Linked DNA regions of Homo sapiens: region 1 is linked to region 2. Evidence: fine-mapped expression QTL. A gene starts in region 2. The other region holds a variant in brackets. All regions are shown on one strand. Distances are from middle to middle.

Region 1 (10,881 bases), 29 kb before region 2:
GAAGAGACGGGGTTTCACCATGTTGGTCAGGCTGGTTTTGAACTCCTGACCTCAGGTGATCCATCTGCCTCGGCCTCCCACAAGTGCTGGGATTACAGTTGTGAGCCACCGCACTCAGCCAAAATACAATTTTTACTTTTTACTTGTTTATTGACTTATTTGTATGTACTCTAAGGAAAGTGCTTATGATGGTGGTATGTAGCTAGCCAGGTCTCCATCCCCTGATTTACTTTTCCAGTTAAAAATCCACCTTGAAATCCGGGCACTATGGCTCACACCTGCAATCCCAGCACTTTGGGAAGCCAAGGCAGGTGGATCACATGAGGTCAGGAATTTGAGACCAGCCTGGCCAACATGGTGAAACCCTATCTCTACTAAAAATACAAAAATTAGCCAGGCACAGTGGCAGGCGCCTGTAATCTCAGCTGCTTAGGAGGCTGAGACAGGAGAATCGCTTGAACCCGGGAGGTGGAGGTTGCAGTGAGCTGAGATGGCGCCATTGCACTCCAGCCTGGGCGACAGAGGGTGACTCCGTCTCCACCACCTCCCCCCCAAAAAAAATCCACCTTGAAATTTACCCCTTAAAATAGTTTTTTCAACAGAAGAAACTTTCTTAAGGATCCAGTTATCTGAAATTTAAGGCCAAGAACTTGTAAATGGCTATCATTGGGACTCAGAAATTGATACTCCATAATATGGCACTTTGACATGCTGAACTGAAGAAGCCTCAAGAACTCTCTGACCTTCTCCCAAAGCACAGGATGAAGCTGTCATCTGAATGAAATCCCCTTATCTGCCTAAAGTCCAGACCCACCAAAGAAAAAAACCACCTCTGGCCCCTTCCCTGAGTTTTCCATTAACTGGACTTATATAGCAGAAACAAAGACTAAATTCAGTCAACACACCTGGACAGACTTTTGTCACAAACCACTGTCCTGTGGGCCCAACAGACTTTGTTCCCAGCCACTAAGTGTTCTTCAAGCTCATTAAACTCCCCTAAAAGTAATTCACCACCCCCATAAAATCATCCACACTTCCCCATCTCCCTTTCCCAAAAACAGAATTATCTGTACCCCATTTAGACACTCACTGTGATTCTCCCCTGTGCTACTTTATATGCCATTTCTCCTGTTAATCTGCCTTTTGTAAGTTAATTCTTCAGCAAACCGTCAGAGGGCAAAGGAGAAGTTTTCCCTCGGCCCCTACGTTATCAACAGTACAGACACATAATACTATTCTAACTTGTTCTTTTGTTTTTCAGAGTTTCGTAAAAAGGAGCAACAAATTAAACAATGCAAGGGCACAGCAGGACAAGCACTCATTAAGGAATGAGGAGGGAACAGAACTCCAGGCCATTGTGAGATAGATACCCATTTAGGTATCTGTACCTGGAAAACATTTCCTTCTAAGAGCCATTTACAGAATAGAAGATGAGACCACTAGAGAAAAGTTAGTGAATTTTTTTTTAAAAGACCTAATAAACCCTATTCTTCCTCATTGTCTTTGTCATTATTGTTTGACCAGGTAACAATACTGGAACTATATTAGTTTACCTTTTTTTGTACAAATTAGGACAGAAAAACTCTTCTAAAACCATGTTTATATGCATCAACTTACAAAGTACACTATGTAAGAACTGAGGTAAGTTTGTAAGTGCACAACTAATAAATAAACCTTTTTAAGATAAGGATTTTGTTAGCAGAAATCTCTGGATTTTTTTTTTTAAAGGGACAGCATCTCACTATGTTCCCAAGGTTGGAGTACAGTGTCTATGCACAGGTGCCATCATAGCTCACTGCGGCCTCCAGCTCTTAGGCTCAAGTGATCCTCCTGCCTCAGCCTCCCAAGCAGCTGGGACTACAGGCATGCCACCATGCCCAGCTTGGAAAGTTGCTTTTATACAGAGTAGGATACTTCCCTACTCAGCCAATCCTGGAAATATGCTAAATGGATTAACTTTTCAAAGTACAATTCTTAGATTTGGTGACAATAAAAGCCAAAACTGTCTACTCTAACATGAACTACCACCTGAACTGGGCATGTACAGGAGAGGCAGGAGTGTAACCAATGATTTAGTCTGTGCACATGCTCTTCCTTTTTTTCTGAATACTCTTCCTCCTCTTTGCTAATGGCAAACTCCTACTTATTCTTCAAAACCCAGCTCTGATAGCATCATGCTTCTGCAATGCCTCTGAGCAGCATTACTTGCCCTCTCTTCTGTCCTTTTCCTCCATGCTCTTCTCTGATATGACTGTGAATCCACTTTCTGTTATGTCTCTCCACCAGATCACATTCCGTGATGGCACACACAATTTATCCAAACTCCTGATACACAAGCACTCCTCTTACAGCAGACATTCTGGAAGAAGTGGTTTTCAACCACAGCCCCACCTGAGAAATTACCTGGAGACAGATTTTTAAAAATACTTCTGCCTGGACCTCAGAGATTTATGTAGATGGGAGTGAGGGGAAGAGCTTTTCGTTTTTAAAACTCTAACCAAATAGAAACATTTTAACATGTTGATTGGCAGCCTCATGGGAATCAATCTGACTTAAATGGCAGGGCAGGTAGTGTGATATAAGGCTTCCCTTCCCTAAACTTTGAAGAGTCAAAGATGACAAGGAAAGCCTTAGAACTCAGGTCTACTTTAAATGCAATGACTTTTTTCTTAAATGCCACCATTGAATTAGGTTGACTCCAATAGTTTCCTTTACAAGCAGTTTCCCAGAAGCATTAAACCTAGTCATTGTGGAATGATGAGCAAATAGCCTTCACTTTTGTGGGCTCATCAAACCATGTGTATATACTCCTCATCTCTCAGCAAAAAACAGACGGTTTTCGCCCCCAAACCTAATAGAGCCAATCCTATTAGAAGACATGGCTTGGCTGAGACAATGTCGGAAAGTGTGAGTTACTAATTTTCTTTTAGTGACTGCATTTTTGTCACTATGACACCTAGCTATTGTTTGTCCTTCCCTCTGTCAGGACTGAAGGTTTATGTTTCACTATAAACCCTGGCTTATTACCAAGCAGCACATCCTATGGCTGACCTAGCATGTTTCTTATTCATGTTTACTTACCCTAAGATAGGAAAATTCCCCACCCCTCCTGTCAATATTCCTAAAGATTTTAAGATTATTCCAAGTTGAATTTAAGATGAATCTGGGCCAGCCAAGTCAGTGAAATAAGCAAGGGTCAGAAAATGATTAGAATTCTGTCATTTACTATGTGTAATGGTTTCCTAAGCCTCAATCTCCTTAAGCATAGAGTGCAGTGTTGTGTGAAGTAAATAAAATGTTAATGTACCTTGTAACAGTACCTAGGAAAAAGGTACTTAAAAAAAAATCTGACCCTACCTATCTAGAAGCTAGCCAGAAAATAATCAGCCTGTGGTTCATATGAAAGTTCAAAAAAAATATTTATTTATAAAAAATACAATGGGATAAGTTTATGCTGAGAAATGCAGCAATAAATACAGTTGAAGAAAACAGAGCAACTCTACATTGATACATTGGCACAAACAGGAAGAGCAAATGCATCACCCAGGCCTAAATGTCCACAGGCCACTTTTGTACATGCTCTTTTAGAAACACCACTCTGAAAAGATCTTGTTCGCTAGGTAAGAGAATGAGTACACATATAATCACAAATGCACACTGATCATGACTTTATTTAAAAATTAGCAAACAATACTGTAGAAACATTGATATGTAAATTTCTAAAATGCTGCATCTTAAATTTAGTTGGCAAAGACCACATTTAGCAATAAGCATGAGTTTAGTCTTCCATGTAGAAACCAGATACACTAAACTGTAAAAAAAAAAAAAAAAAAAAAAAGTTTCCTATTGTTTGAAAATACCAGTTTAATATAAGATTGTAAAAATGCATAGATTTTTGCATAAAAGAACTGGCTGTACAAGAGTACTCCCCTTTCACAGTATTCCTTTTTACTTCATATGCGAGTTATTGATTATGCTGTAGGATTTAACTATTACAGCACTAAAAGGCAACTATTGAGGGAAGAGGCAGAAAAAGGAAAAAGGAATGTACGTAAGGCAATTTTTCTTAAAAGTACAATAAGCTTAATAGTGTTTTAGGAAGACAAGATAAAAATTACTCAAGGCTAGCTTGGTTCTCACTGAATAAAAACAAAGGACTAAATACTGAGCTCCTTCTGTGTGGATCTAATAATCAATGCCTTGGTCGCTATATTGGTAATCTCTGGGGTAGTCATCCTGGTACTCGCCATGATACTCATCAGGGTATTCTGCCTGATAATCACTATCACTGATTTCCGAACCATTTGTTCCTGTTCCTTGGCTTCCGTTGTGAATGACAGGTTCTGTAGGAGCAGCACAGTATTTGGGATCATATACTTGCCGCCCAAGCCCATACACACTCATTCCTTTCTGGGAAGCAACTTTGTTGGTACCCATCTGTAGGGAAATTGTCGAGTTGTCCACCGGCTGTAATGTTAGCTTCTGATCATAGATGTCTCTTCTGGTACCTGGTGCTAACATCCCTGCCTGGTATTAGAACATAGTATAAAAGTTAAAACAGCAGCTAGAATCTATTCTTGTGAATAATTTATAAATTATAGAATTCACATTGAATATGAACAGTAATACATGAACTTTCATTTGGTTCAGGGGTAAAGCTAGCTTAACCAAAATATCCTGATACCGAATCACTTCCATGAAGCAATATTCATTGGCTTTTGAGCTAGGTGAGACCTTTCTTCAAAATCCTTGCTCTGCTATAAAATTACTATGTGGCCTCAAACACGTAAATTTAGCTTTAGGTTTCTCAAACTGCAAAATGGAGACATTACTACCTACTCTGGATTTAAGAGAGAATGAGACATAAAGAATGTGAAATCATAATGCTTCCACACCAGAAAGTTCCATGTGAATGCCCATGGGGACCACATACATTATCTGGGTTACCAATTTCAAAAATTTATAATATATTCAACAGAAACTATGTTGAGCAGATCTTAAGGACTTGAGTCTTTTCAAAAGGCTGAGATACAGAAGAACCAGCCACTTCACAGCCACTCCCCTCTTTTTCAGAGTACAGTAACTCATACTTCATCTCTCTACTTACATCAAGCACACACTTCCAGGTTCAGAGTGGGTAGAAAAGTAAACGTGAGTGGCAGCTATGAGAGACATAATGCCGCACCCGGTAGGATGTGTTCCATAAGGGCAAAGTTTGATAAATCTCCCTTGGACTCGGTAAGAAAATGTTTTTCAAACCCTATCCCAGCTGTTGTTGGATGTGAGACCTGTCTGTTCTCAAATGGTTGTTGAACTTCCTTCTGAGGTGCTGGTGATCTATTTTTAACAAGGAAATATTTCTATCTTGGATGTGGTATACTGGTATTTTCACCATGTTGCATTTCCATCTCCTTATATTGACACATCTAATAGGAATGCTAGTTAAATCCTTCTTAGTGGAACACCAGGTAATTTTACCTATTAATTAAGGGCTCCTTAAAAAAAAAAGTCAGCATTTAAATGAGCAATATTTTACTTGGATTTTGGAGCAAGAACACTGTAATAAACATATCTTTTTTTCTGCTGGCTAGGTAGAAAGGCCAGCTGTTCTAACTGCCAACAAAAACCACGAGACACATCATGCTTTTGCTGCTATCGAAAAGGTCTTTTGATTATTTTGCTTTCCCAGCAAAGTCCACATTCCTGAAGGAATATACTCTAAATAAACTATACAAAAAATACCTACTTTAAACTTCTGGTTAATAAAAATAAGGTAAGTGTACTCTTGTACACGTATAAAAAGGTATTGCTTACCTGGCTGGCTCCTTTATTAGTGCCCATCTGCAGACTAATTGTGGTCTGGTCAAAAGGTTTGTCAGTTTGCATTTTGGGATCATAAAGATGCCTCCTAGTCCCGTAAGCTGTCATACCTGCCTGGCTGGCACATTTGTTGGTTCCCATCTTTTAAGTTAAAAATAAAATTGCACAAATTATCAGATGTCAACAATATACACAACACAAACAAAACTTTCCATGCTACCAAAAAGACAGAAGGGGCACAACCGACAAGTTACTGAGCTGAGGCTCCAGTCAACTCTTCTATGTGTCTACAAACAAATTTCAAGTGCTAACTTTAAAAAGAAAATTTTAAAGTCACTATAGATAAAAACTCATACATAGAAGAATTAAACACACTTTAACAGGTGGACTGACACACCAAAAGTCATTACAGTGGCAGAATAATTTCCTCTGCTACTCTTTCCCCAGATAACCAAATTAAGAGGTACCAGCTTCGGTTATTTCA[A/G]CAGAAGTAATCCTAGGCCAAGCAATATGCTGTTCTACTCCAGGAATGTTTTACATAAAATGTGAAAGCAAATGCCAAGTGTTTTCTCTGGGAGCTTAACAAGGGCTTTTTAAAGTTTCAAAATCACCAACATTTTCTCCAGAAAGGAACCACATTTTATTCCTGTAACTCCCATGTCCTTGGACAGAGCTGGAGAAAGGTGGAATGAGGAATTTGAACTCAGCAAAGTTCAGGGAAACAATAATTAATTTTTCTTCCCCACTGAGAACAGTATGGCTTCAGGACCAACCATTACACCCTGTTCCACTGGTTAGGCACACTTTTCTGATGTTGGATCTTTTTTCTTTAAAAATAAGATTAAAGAAAATCTTTATTACTAATATAAAATCTGTTCATTGAAGAAAATTCAGAAAACACATATAAGCAAAAAGGAGGGGGGAAAAATCATTGTGATACCACCATCCATTCACTGTCAACATTTGTGAATATCCTTTTAGCTTTTTAACCTATGTGTCTATGTATATATCTATAGATGCACATATATACAAATACATACAAAAACATGTGCATTTTTAATTTTAAAAATCCATACTGACCACAGTATTTGATGATCTGATTTTTTTCCCCCATAACCTATCTTTTCAAACTCTAGTGTATAATTTTACATTACACTTTGCTTTTATGGAGTTGTAATTCAACCAACTGACTACTGTTCTGAAATTTAGGTTTCCAGTTTCTCACCACCAATACAATTTTGTACTGTGTAAAAATAAATCTAACTTGCATAGACTCAGTAGAAAGGGGCACTGTATCAAGCAGGTACAGTGGCTTTTGGAGAGTAAAGCCAACAGCATTTGGGGAATTAGCAATGACGTTTCCATGACCAGTGAAGAGAACAATGAAGAGAAGGAAAACATCTGAACTACGTATTTCAGAAGAATTTAAACTGACAAATTCTAACAGGGCTTGGCTGCTATATCATGATTTGGTACTGTAAATAAGTGACTTTGGCATTAAGGTCGTGTAAAATTGCCTAATTTGGTCAATAACATTAAGGAATTTATAAAGTACATTTCTGGCTGGGTGTGGTAGCTCATGCCTGTAATCTCAGCACTTCGGGAGGCCAAGGCAGGAGGACTGCTTGAGCTCCAGAGTTTGAGACTATCCTGGGCAACAAAGTGAGATCCCATCTATATATAAAAGATAAAACAGGCCAGGTGCAGTAGTTCACGCCTGTAATCCAAGCACTTTGGGAGGCCGAGGTGGGCAGATCACCTGAGGTCAGGAGTTCAAGACCAGCCTGGCCAACATGGTGAAATCCTATCTCTACTAAAACTACAAAACTTAGCCGGGCATGGTGGCTCATTCCCATAATCCCAGCTACTTGGCAGGCTGAGGCAGGAGAATTGCTTGAACCCAGGAGGTGGAGGTTACAGTGAGCCGAGATCGCGTCACTGCACTCCAGCCTGGGCAAAAGAGTGAGACTCTGTCTCAAAAAAAAAAAGATAAAATAAAAAATTTAAAAGTGTATTTTTCTTTTTTAAAAAAAAAAAAAAGACAATATGATTCAATTAAAAATTTTCGTTTCCTGGAGAAATAATTGTCAAGTCAGGTGGCATACCTGAGGTTTCCTCTAAAAAATTATCACTGTCTTATGGGCTTTATAAATAGATATAAATTGTATAAACTACACCCCCCCCCCAGTACTATAGTACTTCTGTCTATTCTTAGGAGAGGCTTAATATTTTGCATGGTGAGAATTAATCATATTGAATAAGTAATTGAATAAGCAACACCACATTACTTACCTGCAGACCAATTACACTTTGGCCAGCTTTTAATTTTCCTTCATCAAAACGTCTTGTTTGTTTTTCTGCATACTTAACTCCAATGTCAATGGTTGTATGGAATCCTTTTGTTTTAGCCTAGACAGAAACATGCACACTAACTGAAAAGGCCAACAGAGTTTCACAGAAGGAACAACAAAGAAATGATATGTCCATAGACAAAGGGGCCCAAACTAGAGATAAAAAGTATTTAAGGCTGTTCAATAATATACTGCATCATTTGAAATGTGAGTGTTCTAAGTAAGCTATCTAGTACGATGCAGCTGATGTCAGCAGCCTTTCCACAAAGCTACTAATTACAGAAGAGACAGGCCCCGCCCCACCTGGTCTGAACCCCCATGAAAAAGCAATGATGCAATTCATCACCAATGTGGTGGGAATCTGTTAACCAGCCATTAAAGACATGTACGTACCAGACCTGCTAGAGCCACCAGAGTAGTCTGAACCTGGGTCATGTTTCCATTCTCAAAAAGATCATTTGCTTCGAATATGTCATGTGGCTTCATACCATAAGCCTGAATAGCTTTAATAAAGTTGCCAATATTCTCCAACTATAAAGAAGAAGAGTTTTATAATTTCTGGAGCTAAATATTGACATTCATAATTTCTAAGAATTCCAAGTCTTCATAAACAGTTATAAGACGCTGCCCAGAAAGCTGTTTGACAAGGATTCAACCAAATACATACTAAGCATGGCTCTCTCTGGAACAGGAAAGAGCAAGAAGAGAGTGTGTCTCTCACTGTGGGTCACATCACAGTCTTAATATTTTTAAGCAGTTACGTGTTTTCAGTTTTTATGGGCAAGATCTTCCTTATATATTTTAAAAGGATTCTGTATCAGAGCTATCCAGGCCTGGAATTTTATTTGTCAAAAGGTGTATAATTACTCATACTAATAAATAATTCATTATGTGTTATTTTAATTTCAGAATACATTTGTGGTTACTAAATACTCATTCTCTCATATCTCCAAACACATGTTCAAGACCAGTAAGTATCCCATTTTCCTTCCTCATACACACTCATGAACTAAGGTTATGTCTGATACAGTGCTCTGCAGTCCACTGTTAGTTATGTGGAATGCCTTGTTTTTTCCCTTATCCTTAAGGTCTGGGTTGCATTTCTCTGTGTAAGCTGTGTCAAGTCCTTTCTGAATGTACACAGACTAAATATAGGAAAACTTCTAAGCTAAACGTAATAATTACAGAACTAGTTAAATAAGTAATTACAGAACCATTACAAAAGGGCAAAAAATTAAATATGCACAAATTTCTGCTACAATGTCTATGTAAAAACCGTAATCAAAAAGTTAAAAAAAAAAAAAACACAAAACCAAAAAACCAAACCTGAAATCAAGTTTTCACTACATAAAATGCAACCAACTAGAACCAGAGGTGGTTGGTTTGGCTGTTACCTGAGGCCAGTTCAGTGAGGACTCGTTGACCTTCTTCACTGAGCCTGGCTGTAGCTTGTTTATAAGTCTGAAAAGAAAAATATGAGAGACATCTTATTTACTGGCACACAAAAACAAGGATTGAAATATCAAGTTGCTCCCTTTAGCATCAGTAAGGGAAAGCATTAAAGATATCTGTAGAATATCAAGGTCTGACACCCTGGGCTGAGAAGGAGAGTGAGAGAGAAGGCTGTGGAAAGAACTGGAAGAGCAGAAACAGATTCTGGAGGGCTGTAACTCACTCGCAGAGGATGATGCCATCCTTTAAGCCCAGCTGGAAGTTGGGGCCAATGCTCATGCCTGTCACCTCTTCTATCCAATTGCGAAGATCTTCTTCTGCCTGATGATCATACTTGGAAGCAATCTGAAATACAGGTTAACTCACTTTAGAAGAATTTCACAAAAGCATCAGAAACTGCCGACTCACAACGCGCTCTGCTTTCACTAGCCATTAAGACCACAGCTGTGAAGTGTAGTAAATGACACTCAATAGATCTCAATGGCAAACTTAACCGTTACAACTTCAGTAACTAATAACAAATTTTTGGTGAAGACCGTGTCATACAAAATTTTGAACAGACCATGGAGAGGCTGGGACTGACAAGGAGAGAACATCAATCAAGAGACATCAGATTTCATGATCCACAGGAAGTGACAAGGATTTAATGGTATGTTACAATATGGCACTCAAACTTTAAGGTTTAAGTCATTAATCACCCTATTCCAAAAAAAGCTGGGGAAAGGATTCTGACACATGCAGTTATTTTACAGAGTATCTCACCTGGCCAATACATAACATTCCAATAGTTTTGTTGACTGGAAAGTTCTGGTATTTGCCTTCTATTCAGCCAAATACACACTATATACTAAACACACACACACACACTTTCCTCAGTACTAATTACTGTACAATATTTAAATTCTGTTTATGTAGTCTCTATCCTATTAGACTTCTTACAGGCAGGAAAAGCATCTAGTTCATTCAGATTCTTAGTATCTAGAATTGAACCTGACACCCAAACATGTGATAAAACTAAAAGAAAGTTTAACTTTTTACTTGCAGAATTCAAAAATAAAGGCCAACTTACCAACACAAATGCTATGCTATTATACATGGTAAAACTATTAAACATAAGTTTTGAAAGATCCCTTTTTAATAAGACCAGACCTCAATTTAAAATAATTGAAAAAATAAAATTTAAACAAAATATTGTGAAAAAAATCACATGCCCAAGTTCTTAAGCTATCCCTTGTCCTGGAGTCCCCTTAAAGTGGCT
Region 2 (10,881 bases):
CTAGAGATAGCAAAATCTATTCCCGATGAATAAATTCATTAAATCAACAAATATTCAAATATTTATTGAGCATATGCTATGTGCTAAACTATATTGTAAAATATCGATCTTGAGACACACCCGCGAATAAGAGAGCTTTATCTCTGGTGGGAAGAGACAGATAATAAGCAAACAAAAAAAGATTTTAATTAAAAACCAATTTCTGAACTTCCAAGTTTAAAAAGAAAAAAGCTAAGCCCACCAACACATTTTTACCAAGATTCTGGTGCTCTACCAGCAAGACAAGGCAAACCACCCTCGAGTGTAATTTATAGCTGGGTCACCCTGGGTTACTCTGATCAGAAGTACCCTCAGAGCAGCTGTGCGTCTAAAGCGCACCCGGCAAACAAGCTAGGAGGACTTCGCGGACACTGGTCCTATCTAATTATTACTGTATGATTGTTTAACTTCAACAACCAAAGATTTTGGTAATAAGCCTTTCAAGAAGGTTTTTAGGTGTTGAGAAATACCATTTTGTAATCAAGAAGATCCCGTGGGAAGCTGCTTTGCTCAAATCAGACATTCCAAGGGGGCAGAAGACTGGAAGAATGTGCATTCCAATTCCATGCTTCTTAATATTCCAGTTAGCTTCCTCCCAAAAAAACATACCGAGGTAAGATTATTTCAGCTCCCCATTTGTCAATTTATTTTTTCCACTTTCCCTGAGACCTGTAAGAAAGGTTCCTGCGGCATTTGCTCTAAACCTGATGAAGACATGCTTCACTGCGTCCTCTCTTCCCATCCAACTTTACGGGAAACTACCCCCAACTCCAACATTTTGCCAGGAAATACTGTGCTTCCCTTGAGTACCTGTTATGTTTTTTCATGGTTTACGAGGCACAGAGTTGTTTCACTTTTCATTTTGGTTCCCAAGATGCATTCAAGGGCCTGGTTCAACCTGTAGAATACCTGTAGGGCCCATTATTTTATGAGTGTTTCCATCCTCCACCGAACCATCCCTACCAGTGTCTGCATTTTCCCTGGCCCTTTTACTCTCTGATAGTTTTTGTAAACTCTAAGTTATTGATCATTTGGTGTCATTTTTTTCTTTGTTATTAAAGAAACTTTGTTCATATTCCAGGCTGAAAGACTGGAATTCTTAGGCTTTTTTTTTTTAAGGCTGTTTTCACACATCTTCTTGCCTATTAAAAAAAGTAAGCTTGTGTGTTCTGCCATGTATTATCATCTTACCAATCAAATGTCTTAAAGATTTTTCTCTGAAATTTTACTGATTAAAGTATTTAAAATCAGAGACTTCCTCAATTCATTGATGAAATGCTTTTACAGCTAGAATATTATATAACAAGACCAAAAGGTATTAATACAAACCAAATACTTAAAGAGGCAGGGACATACAAATCTTAGAAATATAATACTAAAAACTAATTTTCTGTTACTAAGAGCTAATAGCTACAATACAGTCACTGAGTTGAGTATAAGCCAGACACATCTCCACAACATGGTGTCTGGGGGTGGCAACTATTGTTTTCCCCCATTCTACAGAACAGAAGCTAGGAGAGAGATGTCAAGTAGCTAGCCCAGCATCACAGAAGGCAGGAAGTGGCAGAACGGGGACTAGAACTCACATATGCTAGACTCCCAGGTCCACTCCACACTGTCTCCCCAGGATGTTTCTATACTTCTTTGTTAAATGAGATGTGGGGGTAGATGGGGGGAATCTAGCATTCAAGCAATGTATCAATTATGCAATAAAGAAAAAGCAGGAAGGAATCAAAAGGTGTCAAACCACGCAATGTCACTTTTGTATATACCCACCTTTCACCCGGGAGTCCTGAGGCCTCAGTCAAAATGCAGCATCTCATACAAAGGCCTAGCAAACATGGCTATTTGATTCCCAGGCCCAGAACAGATCAGAAACAGTATGACATAAATAATCACAATGTCAAGAAGTGACAGGTGGGTAGCAAAAATGGGAGGAAGGGCTGGGCGCCATGGCTCACGCCTGTAATCCCAGCATTTTGGAAGGCCAAGGCAGGGGGAATCACCTGAGGTCAGGAGTTGGAGACCAGCCTGGCCAACATGGCAAAACCCTGTCTCTACTAAATAATACAAACATTAGCCGGGCATGGTGGCAGGCACCTGTAATCCCAGCTACTCGGGGCGCTGAGGCAGGAGAATCACTTGAACCTGGGAGGCGAAGGTTGCAGTGAGCTGAGATCGCGCCACTGCACTCCAGCCTGGGCGACAGAGCAAGACTCCGTCTCAAAAAAGAAAGAAAAAAAAATGGGGGGAAGGCGACAGACAGCAGAGTTTGTGTAGAACATCCCTAAGTACTTCACTCAACTAAGACATCGCTTTTAGAGTTAAAATTCTTAGAATAGTCCAACTTCTGTGACCTTGAGCAAATCTTTCTGAGCTTCAGTGTACTGATCTGTAAATGATGTTGGATAATCCCAGCAATCCTCCTCACCTTACAGGACTGCTCTGCTGTTAAGATCAAAAGACTTCCTATGAAAGAATACTGTCTGAAAGGACTACAAAAATGAAACGGGTTATTAAAAAATGGGTTTGGTGCTTAAAGGGATAAATCCACAGCTTTCATAACTAACTTTCCAAAGGTTCTAAAAACTGAGGTTTTACCGTTTTTAAATATTTACAATAATTACAGTGATCTAGCCTGTGTATGCATTTCCTTGGATCTGCTCAGTATTAAGCAGGAAAAGGGCAAAAGCTGCTACATTAGTCAGCAAAAAAGAAATTAGCATGGATATTATTAACATCCAAGAAAAGTAAGTCACTTGAAGGGCTGCCAACGTTATCAGTACCTCATTTACAATGCAAAAGGTAGTAGAGACTCAACTGCTGCCAGCCAAGAATCACTGGGGGGAATTACAATGAATGTGCACAACCAGGCCAAAGTATCACATCACATCCAACATTTTGGACATGCCCATTCCTCTGAAGTTTCCTAAAGTTCGGTTTGTAAATCCTGGAAGGAAGGAAACAGTAACTTGTTACAAACTTTTCAGTTGGTGAGGTTTGCACTCAATCATACACAAACCATTCACCTTTCTGCTCTCTAAAAAAATTGTTAGCAAACTGTTGTCTAATACGGGCAACACGTTTGAAAAGGTAAAGGACCTAAACATTTCAACTTTAGATACATAGACTAAAATCAACTCCTTGCTTCAAAGACAGTATGATGTGCAGACTAACAGCGGGAGACAAGAGCCACAACTCTCCCTTGGGGTTTGACAACGGTGCGCTTCATTACCTCTTTACATAATTCGCTTCACACCGCCTACCCCCGCAGCCCCGGGATGTTCCAGCTCTGACAATGCCAGTGCCTTCCACCAGCGGTCGGACGGTGCGGTGGCAATCCTGACATGCTTGGGCTCCCGGGAGGTTAATGGGAATTAAACCACAGGCAGCCCTCCTTTGTGGCGCTTTGGCCAGAACAGCAGAAAGGAGACAATGAGCGTTCTGTGCACAGTTCCGCGCCGATTGGCTGGTCTCTCCCCCCAGAAACCCCTGATGTCATGGGCTTGGAATGCAGGGAGGGAGGAAGGAAGGAGAGGATTTGGGGAGGGGGACGCCTCTCATCTCTTTCCCAGGCCAAAAGTCCTAAAGATAAACCTAACGCATTCTTGGGCTCAGTGGCAAAGCTGAGCGTCACCAAATCCCAATCGCTCCAAACTATAAGCCGCCTCAGCAAACAAGCCCCAAACAAAAGCAACCCACAAAAATAATCCTTTATGTCGTGAAAGTCTAATGTACTTCAAACTTCTCAGTGTTTCATAAAAAGTCTCAAGCCTAAGCAGATATCACTCGCACAGTGGCGCGCTCAGGCTTTGTCTCCATTTCCCGCAAAAGCAACAGCAGAAGCAGCAGCAGCAATCTGCCTCCAAATGCCTCCCAGGCACCGAGATCGGAGACTGTGATGGGTCCCGGACCGGCTTCCGTTCCTCGGGGCCCCTGGGGTCGGCGGGACATTAGGCGGTCTCTCTCCCCGTGGGGAGGCGCGGAGTCCGCCAGCACCCGGGGCCCGGGCAGATGGCGGGGGCTGCGGCAGCGGCTCGCCGGGTCCCTGGCCGCGCAGACGGGCTCCGCCTAAGGGCGAGTGGCCACGCAGGAGCGCCCCCTTCCCGGAGGGCGCGTTCTGCAGTCACCAAACGGCCCCCGAGACCCCCGCAGCCGGAAAGGCTGGCGCCGCGGGACTCCAGGCGCCCGGGAACCCACCGCCAGCCACTAGTCCTGTCCCACGGCGCGGGAACAAAGCCAGGCGGGTGCCCGGGAGCCGGCCCCGCAAGCCCGGGGACTGGACGCGACCGGGACAGGCAGAGACGCTCGCGCCGCCTCGACGGCCCCTCTCCAGGAAAACGGTGAGCCACAGCGCGAAGAGCAAACGAAGCACGGCCCAGCGCCAGGCCAGCCCAAGGGTGCCCCGGGGGCCCCCGCGCCCGCCCGAGCCAGGCGTACCTTGTTCTTGACTTCGGCCGAGAGCCCATAGGAAGGGCCCTTGTTGAAGTGGGTCATGGTGGTTCGGGCGGCGGGAAGAGACAGCGCTGGGGTCCGGGGTCTCTCGCACTTCGCTTCCCCGCTCCTGGCCCCGAGGAGTGGCCGCCGCGGGGGATGCTCGAACTCCCTCCTCTGGGAGGCGCAGGAGACGGCCGCGGGGCGCGGGCGGTGCCTGGGCGACTGGGTCCAACTGGGTGCTACAGAGCCTCGAGCTCCGCTGCGAAGCACCCGGCTGCCTCGCTCGCCGCCCGCACCTCGGTTCCCCACAGGCCGCCCCCGCCTCCGCCTGGGCCTTCGAGGATTGGCCGCCGGGCCCGACCAATGGAGGGCCGCCTCCTCCCGCCTCTGCGCCGAGGGGCGGTGCGGCCAATTGAAGGGCCGCGGGGGCCGCTTTCCCTCCCGCTCCCTCCCCGCGAGGTCCCCGGCCCCCGCCCCAGCCCTCACGCCACCGGGGCCGGCGGCTAGGCGGCCCCGCCCCCGGGCTAGGCAGGGCGCCTGGGGGCTTCCCAGCCACAGGCCATTCACGTCAACCTCCAGGCATCCTCCGCGGCGGGCCGGACCGGGCCGGCGGAGGGGAGCGGAAGCCCACCGGGGCTGGCCCGCCGCTGACCCGCCGCCTCCGTCTGCCTCCTCCCGGGCTCTGGGCCCAGCGCGCCCAGATGCCGGGCAGGACCCCTCCGCCCGCTGCTGGAACACCAATAGCAGCGTTGGAGCCTCTGGGCCGGAGGAACTGGGGCCTCCACCGACACCTGCTTCTTCCCTCACCTCGCAGCCTTCCACACCTGTTGATCTGACCTCTGCCCCGCTGCCGCCCAGGAGTAACCTAAGGCTTTTGGCCTGATTCGAGCTCACTCCGTCTAAACCTCTAAATGCGGTGCGAAAAAATCCTGGGGAATGTGCCATGCAAAGCCTGGGCATTTCAAGTGCTTTTCTGGATTCGCATCAACTCCTCTTTACAGGCATCTTTATCCGGAATTCAGCTCGTCCCAAACCCCACGTGGTGTAGCTCTGCTTGTGTTTTTGAATCCCGGGGCCTCTTTGAATCAGAAGCCCTTTGTATAGAGATAAGTATCCTTTAGGCCAGAATCAGCCTCCATTTTTTTCGCAGTCCCATTTCCTACCCGTAATACTTTCTTCTGATTTTAAAGCCATTTGATAGAGAAGGGACAGGGAACAGAACCTTCGCCCCCCGCCTGAGCAGCTGGTAGACTAGATATCTTCCAAACATTATCTCATTTACTTCCCTGGAGTTACAAATAGGTAGATTTCATGTCCGTTGAGGGGTGAGAAAGCTGAAACTTTGAGACTTAAGAATCCTGGCCGAGGTCAGCCTCCTCCGAAGCTTCATCTCTTGCCACCACTTTCTGGTGCACACCTAGGACAGATTTCAATCCCTGAGATCCCAGGATGAAACCTATGTTTGCCAAATACCAGCTACTGTGCCAGAAGAGATCATGGAACCAGGTGTGGAAAGCTGCTTGAGAAGAGGAGCCAAAACATCATAGTTGAACCGTCCTGGAATAGAAGTGAGTAAGGTGAACCAGGTGTGGTGGCTCATGCCTGTAATCCTAGCACTTTGGGAGACCGAGGTGGGAGGATTGCTTGAGGCCTGGAGTTCAGGAACATCCTGGGCAACATAGCAAGATCCTGTCTCTACAAAAAATCCAAAGTTTTTTTAAATTAAAAAAAAAAAGTGAGTAAGGCAGCTTGAACCGGAAATGCACAAAACTGCTATCCAGTTTGCAAGGCTTTTCCCAATGACTTTGAGGGATGGAACCTGAAGGAAGCGGGAGGAGGCAAATAGGGAGGAAAGTGAAATGATTTATAAATGACTTGCTAATTTTGTCCAAAGGGAGTAATGATAATTAGGGCATTCTTCCCACACGAAGATGACACAATTGACCCAATATCATTGAGGCTAACAGTTTGGGCTGTTTTTCCAGTAGTATGACAGTGACGGTGTGTCAACCGCAGGACCTCACCCACATTTCTTTGGGACCTAGGAGTGTGGGAAATAGCAGCCAGATTTGAGGTACAAATCATGGTGTCCAGCCTGCAAAGCCTTTTTGCAGCAATCTAAGCCTGACTGCTCCTGTTGTATGCTCAAAGTCATTTTAATCTACTTTAGCTTATTGTAAAATGTTCAAGAATTGTATTTTGTCTTGAAAACCATGAATTTTATTGTTTAGGGGGAGTTATTTTTTAAGGAGTGCAGGATTTCAGTTTTGGATGATGAAAAAGTTTTGAAGATGGGTAGTGACAGTGGTCACACAACATTGTAAATGTACTTAATGCCATTGTACACTTACGTGACTTTAAAGTAAACATGAAATTTTCTACATTTGTTTGTTTGATCAACTGTTATCCTCCCTAAGGTACTTGAAGTTCTTTCTGACATTGCCACTGGAACTTACTATTTAAATATTGTTGGTCCTCTTGGATTCCATCAGTACTCCAGAGACTTCCTTCGTTTCTAATTTAACTCATTGTGTAAGAATACGTAATGCTGTTGTTAGCACTAGGGAATGTATCTGAGTCTCATGCACCAAAGTGTGTTAGCAGCAGCAAATCTGTATGGGTCTGCAGCAACCTCAATTCTTGCCTCCTCCAAAGAAAGAATTCTACCGAGAGGCATAAGGCAGAGGGAGAGGCCAAGGCACGTTTTAGAGCAGGAGTGAAAGTTAGAGCAAGAATGAAACGAAGTAATGTACACTTGGAAGAGGGCCAGGCGGGCAACTTGAGAGATTCAAGTGCGCTGCTTGACCTTTGACTTGGGGTTTTATACATTGGCATGCTTCCAGGGGGTTGTGTCCCTTTTCCCCTGATTCTTCCCTTGAGGTGGGCTGTCTGCATGTGCAGTGGCCTGCCAGCACTTGGGAGGGACCACATGCTCAGTGTGTTAACTGAGGTTGTACGCATGCTCACTTGAGGCATTCTTCGCTTACTAGTCAAGTGTTCCTAGAAGAAGGTCATATATGAGTACCAGTTAAATGCCACCATTTTGCCTCTTAGTTCACACCTGTGAGCCCACTCAGCCAACTCCTAAGATCCTATCCAGAAGCTGCTGATCACCAGTTGTAGGTATTTTCTAGCCATTGGGAGACTGCCTTTCCCTGGTGCCGGCTGTGACCAGTTATTATTTTAGAGAGACAGTTTAACAACTGCCTGACCACCTGATGGTTGCGTGACATTCCTGGTGGGAGCGGGGAGCCCTCTCCTGCTCTGCTTGTGTCTGACTACCTACTGTGGCACTATAGAATCAAATGAGAAAAACTTAAAATTTGGGACAATTTTAACAGCTTTATTGAAGTATATTGATATAACAAAGTATATTTAAAGTGTTCAGTTTGATACACACATATACACATAGATACACCTATTTAAAAACCCATCACCACAACAGACAAAGGACATATTCATCATACCCAAAAGTTTCCTCATGTAGCCCCTCCCTCCCAGTCTTCCTTACCTCTCCACCCCACCAGGCAACCCCTGATATGCTTTATGTAACTATACATTAATTTGTATTTCCTAGAATTTTATATAATTGGAATCACACATTGTATATTCTGTTTTATCTGGCTTCTTTCACTCAGCAAAATTATTACGAGATTCACTGACGTTGTAGCATGTATCATTAGTTCATTCCTTTTATTACTGAGTAGTATTCAACTGTAGGGATACACCAGTGATTTTACCCATTCCCTTATTGATGAACATTTTGGTTGTTTCTAGATTTTGGCTATTGCAAATAAAGCTGCTATGAACATTCATGTACAAGTCTTTGTATGGACATATGCTTTAATTTCTCTCCCATAAATACCTATAAATGGAATGGCTGGATCAAGTGAAAGATGTATATTTCACTTTTTAAGAAACTGCAAACTTTTTCCAAAATGATTGTACCATTTTACATTCCCACCAGTGCGTATGAGAGTTCCAGTTCCTCTGCTTCCTCACCAACAGTTGGTAGGTCAGTTTTTTTAAATTTAGTCATTCTTATAGATGTGGAGTATGGTATCTCATTATGGTTTTAATTTGAATTCCCTTAATACGTAATGATGTTGGGCTTCTTTTCATGTATTTATTTGCCATCTGTGTATCTTTTTCATGAAATGTTTGTTCAGATCTTTTGCCTATTTTTATTGGATTGTGTGTTTTCTTATTATGGTATTTAACTTGTCACTGTTAGGATACATTTCAAAAATCCTGACCAAGTTCTAACAGTAGAATGTGTCAGTAAATGCTCAGTTTAAGTAAAATGTCACATTGCAAACTAACTACCAGGGTGTGGCCCAGCAATCTTAAGTACTTTCCCTGGAAGTTTCTGTAATATGCAGAACACTTTCAATTGAAATAAATGCTGTTAAGGAGGTCAACTCAACCTTTCCAAATTTTTATTAATTAAAAGCAGTTGTTGGAGAGTTGTAGAAAAGTATTTTTTCACAGAGGCAAATTTGTGGGTCATATTGCCATACATCTTGCCACGAAAATAATAACATAAAGTGTTTTGAAGAATTCACCCTGTAAATCTGTCAGAGGCATGTGAACCAAAGCAACTCCATCTTGAATAGGGGCTAGGTAAAATAAGGCTGAGACCTGCTAGGCTGCATTCCCAGACGGTTAAGGCATTCTAAGTCACAGAATGAGTTAGGAGGTCAGCACAAGGTACAGGTCATAAAGACTTTGCTGATAAAACAGGTTTCAGTAAAGAAGCCAGCCAAAACCCACCAAAACCAAAATGGCGGCAAGAATGACCTCTGGTCGTCCTCACTGCTACACTCCCACCAGCGCCATGACAGTTTGCAAATGCCATGGCAACATCAGGAAGTTGCCCTATATGATCTAAAAAAAGGAGGCATGAATAAGCCACCCCTTGTTTAGCGTATCATCAAGAAATAACTATAAATAAGGGCAACCGGCAGCCCAAGGGGCTGCTCAGTCTGGAGTAGCCATTTTTTTATTCCTCCTAATAAACTTGCTTTCACTTTACAGACTCGCCCTGAATTCTTTCTTGTGTGAAATCCAAGAGCCCTCTCTTGGGGTTGGATCGGGACCCTGTTCCTGTAACAAGTCCACAATGCCAGAGAATTAAAGAGAACCACAAAGGTATGGATCAGTTATGGTAAAGGCAGAAGGGACCCTAAAAGGCTCAGAGGCTAAGGGACTTTTAAGCACCTGCTATGTGCTAAGCACTATTAGAGGCACATAACAGGCAGTGAGATCAAAATTCATCACCCAAATAGGGGCATTTTTGAGAGTGAAAGGGCACTATTAATATTTTTTTGTTTCAGGCAGTCCTGATAAAGCCCCTTCATAGTGTGCTCATTTCACCCTCAAAAGTGTCCCGTTGAGATGCTAAATCACAGTCACCCCACTTATAGGCATCACTTGCAATAACCCTATAATAATCAATATTATCTATTCCTACTTTATAATCAAAAACTAAGGTTTAGTATGGTACACAACTCGGTCAATATCAAACAGTTAACAGAGAGCAGAGTTGGGATTTGAAACCAGGCCTGGTTTAGAATGATTGCTCAAAAACCAACTTCCCAGACTCCTGAAGAATCTGAAGTCACCCTTTTTTGAGGGGGGCAAGGGGGGATGCTTTATGGAATTTATTATAAAAATGCCCCTGGCCTGGTGCAGTGGCTCACACCTGTAATCCCAGCTCTTTGGGAGGCAAGCGGATCACATGAGGCCAGGACTTCGAGACCAGCCTGGGCAACATGGTGAAACCCCGTCTCTACTAAAAATACAAAAATTAGCCGGCAGGGTGGCACACACCTGTAGTCATAGCTACTCAGGAGGCTGAGGCGAGAGAATTGCTTGAACCCAGAGGTGCAGATTGCAGTGAGCCAAGATTGCACCACTGCACTCCAGACTGGGAGACTGCACTCCAGCAGAGTGAGACTCTGTCTTAAAAAAAAAAGCTCCTATCCTTTACATCTTTTTCTTTATAATAACAACTTTGTATTGGATTTGGCAGTGATCCTTTGTTGTTGCCCATCTTCATTTGAAATCAGTTTTTCCAAAACACATGTGAGCAGCCGAATAGAAGAGATGCATAGGATGAGGTATGGGAGAAGGGGAGCAGAACTGCCACGGCCTCTCTGTCACGCCCCACTTCAGGAACCTTCATGGGTTCAGCTACCTGGAAGCTCCCTGAAATTGCTCTTGTAAGGTACATTTGCTCCTTTTTCCCCTCCCTTTGGAGAGTGCTCACCAGTTACTCCAGGTGATACTATTAGTACATCCATCGTGTGCCACCTTTTCCACCAGAGGCAAGCATGTGGCGGACGTTTCAAAGGGATTACCTTATCCCCCACTAGGCCAAGTACTGGGCTCAAGGAGGCACAT

Alleles and levels. Alleles are on the strand shown, and positions count from the first base shown. SD is a standard deviation of normalised expression in the study named.
For the expression in esophagus muscle of the gene that starts at base 4,752 in region 2, allele G in region 1 goes with a lower level than allele A (small effect, 0.22 SD a copy in GTEx).

Evidence for each region.
Region 1: its variant is fine-mapped to the expression of CNN3 in esophagus muscle (GTEx, PIP above 0.99). The same link has a PIP of 0.9 or more in gastroesophageal junction.

The regions. Positions count from the first base shown.
Region 1 is chr1:94,893,557-94,904,437 of GRCh38, forward strand. It overlaps CNN3 (calponin 3), which reads right to left. Exons shown (of 7, transcript NM_001839.5): 2 at 9,847-9,968; 3 at 9,566-9,632; 4 at 8,565-8,702; 5 at 8,113-8,229; 6 at 5,815-5,961; 7 at 3,401-4,527. The coding sequence ends at 4,186. SLC44A3 (solute carrier family 44 member 3) reads left to right here. Exons shown (of 15, transcript NM_001114106.3): 15 at 1,262-1,690. The coding sequence ends at 1,366. Among named protein-coding and RNA genes, the nearest start is that of CNN3-DT, 27 kb to the right of the region's middle. The variant A/G (reference allele first, on the strand shown) is at 6,305.
Region 2 is chr1:94,922,359-94,933,239 of GRCh38, forward strand. It overlaps CNN3 (calponin 3), which reads right to left and starts at 4,752. Exons shown (of 7, transcript NM_001839.5): 1 at 4,480-4,752. The coding sequence starts at 4,536. CNN3-DT (CNN3 divergent transcript) reads left to right here and starts at 4,002. Exons shown (of 3, transcript NR_168377.1): 1 at 4,002-4,382; 2 at 9,514-9,627. RefSeq lists silencers at 3,860-4,289, 4,390-5,269.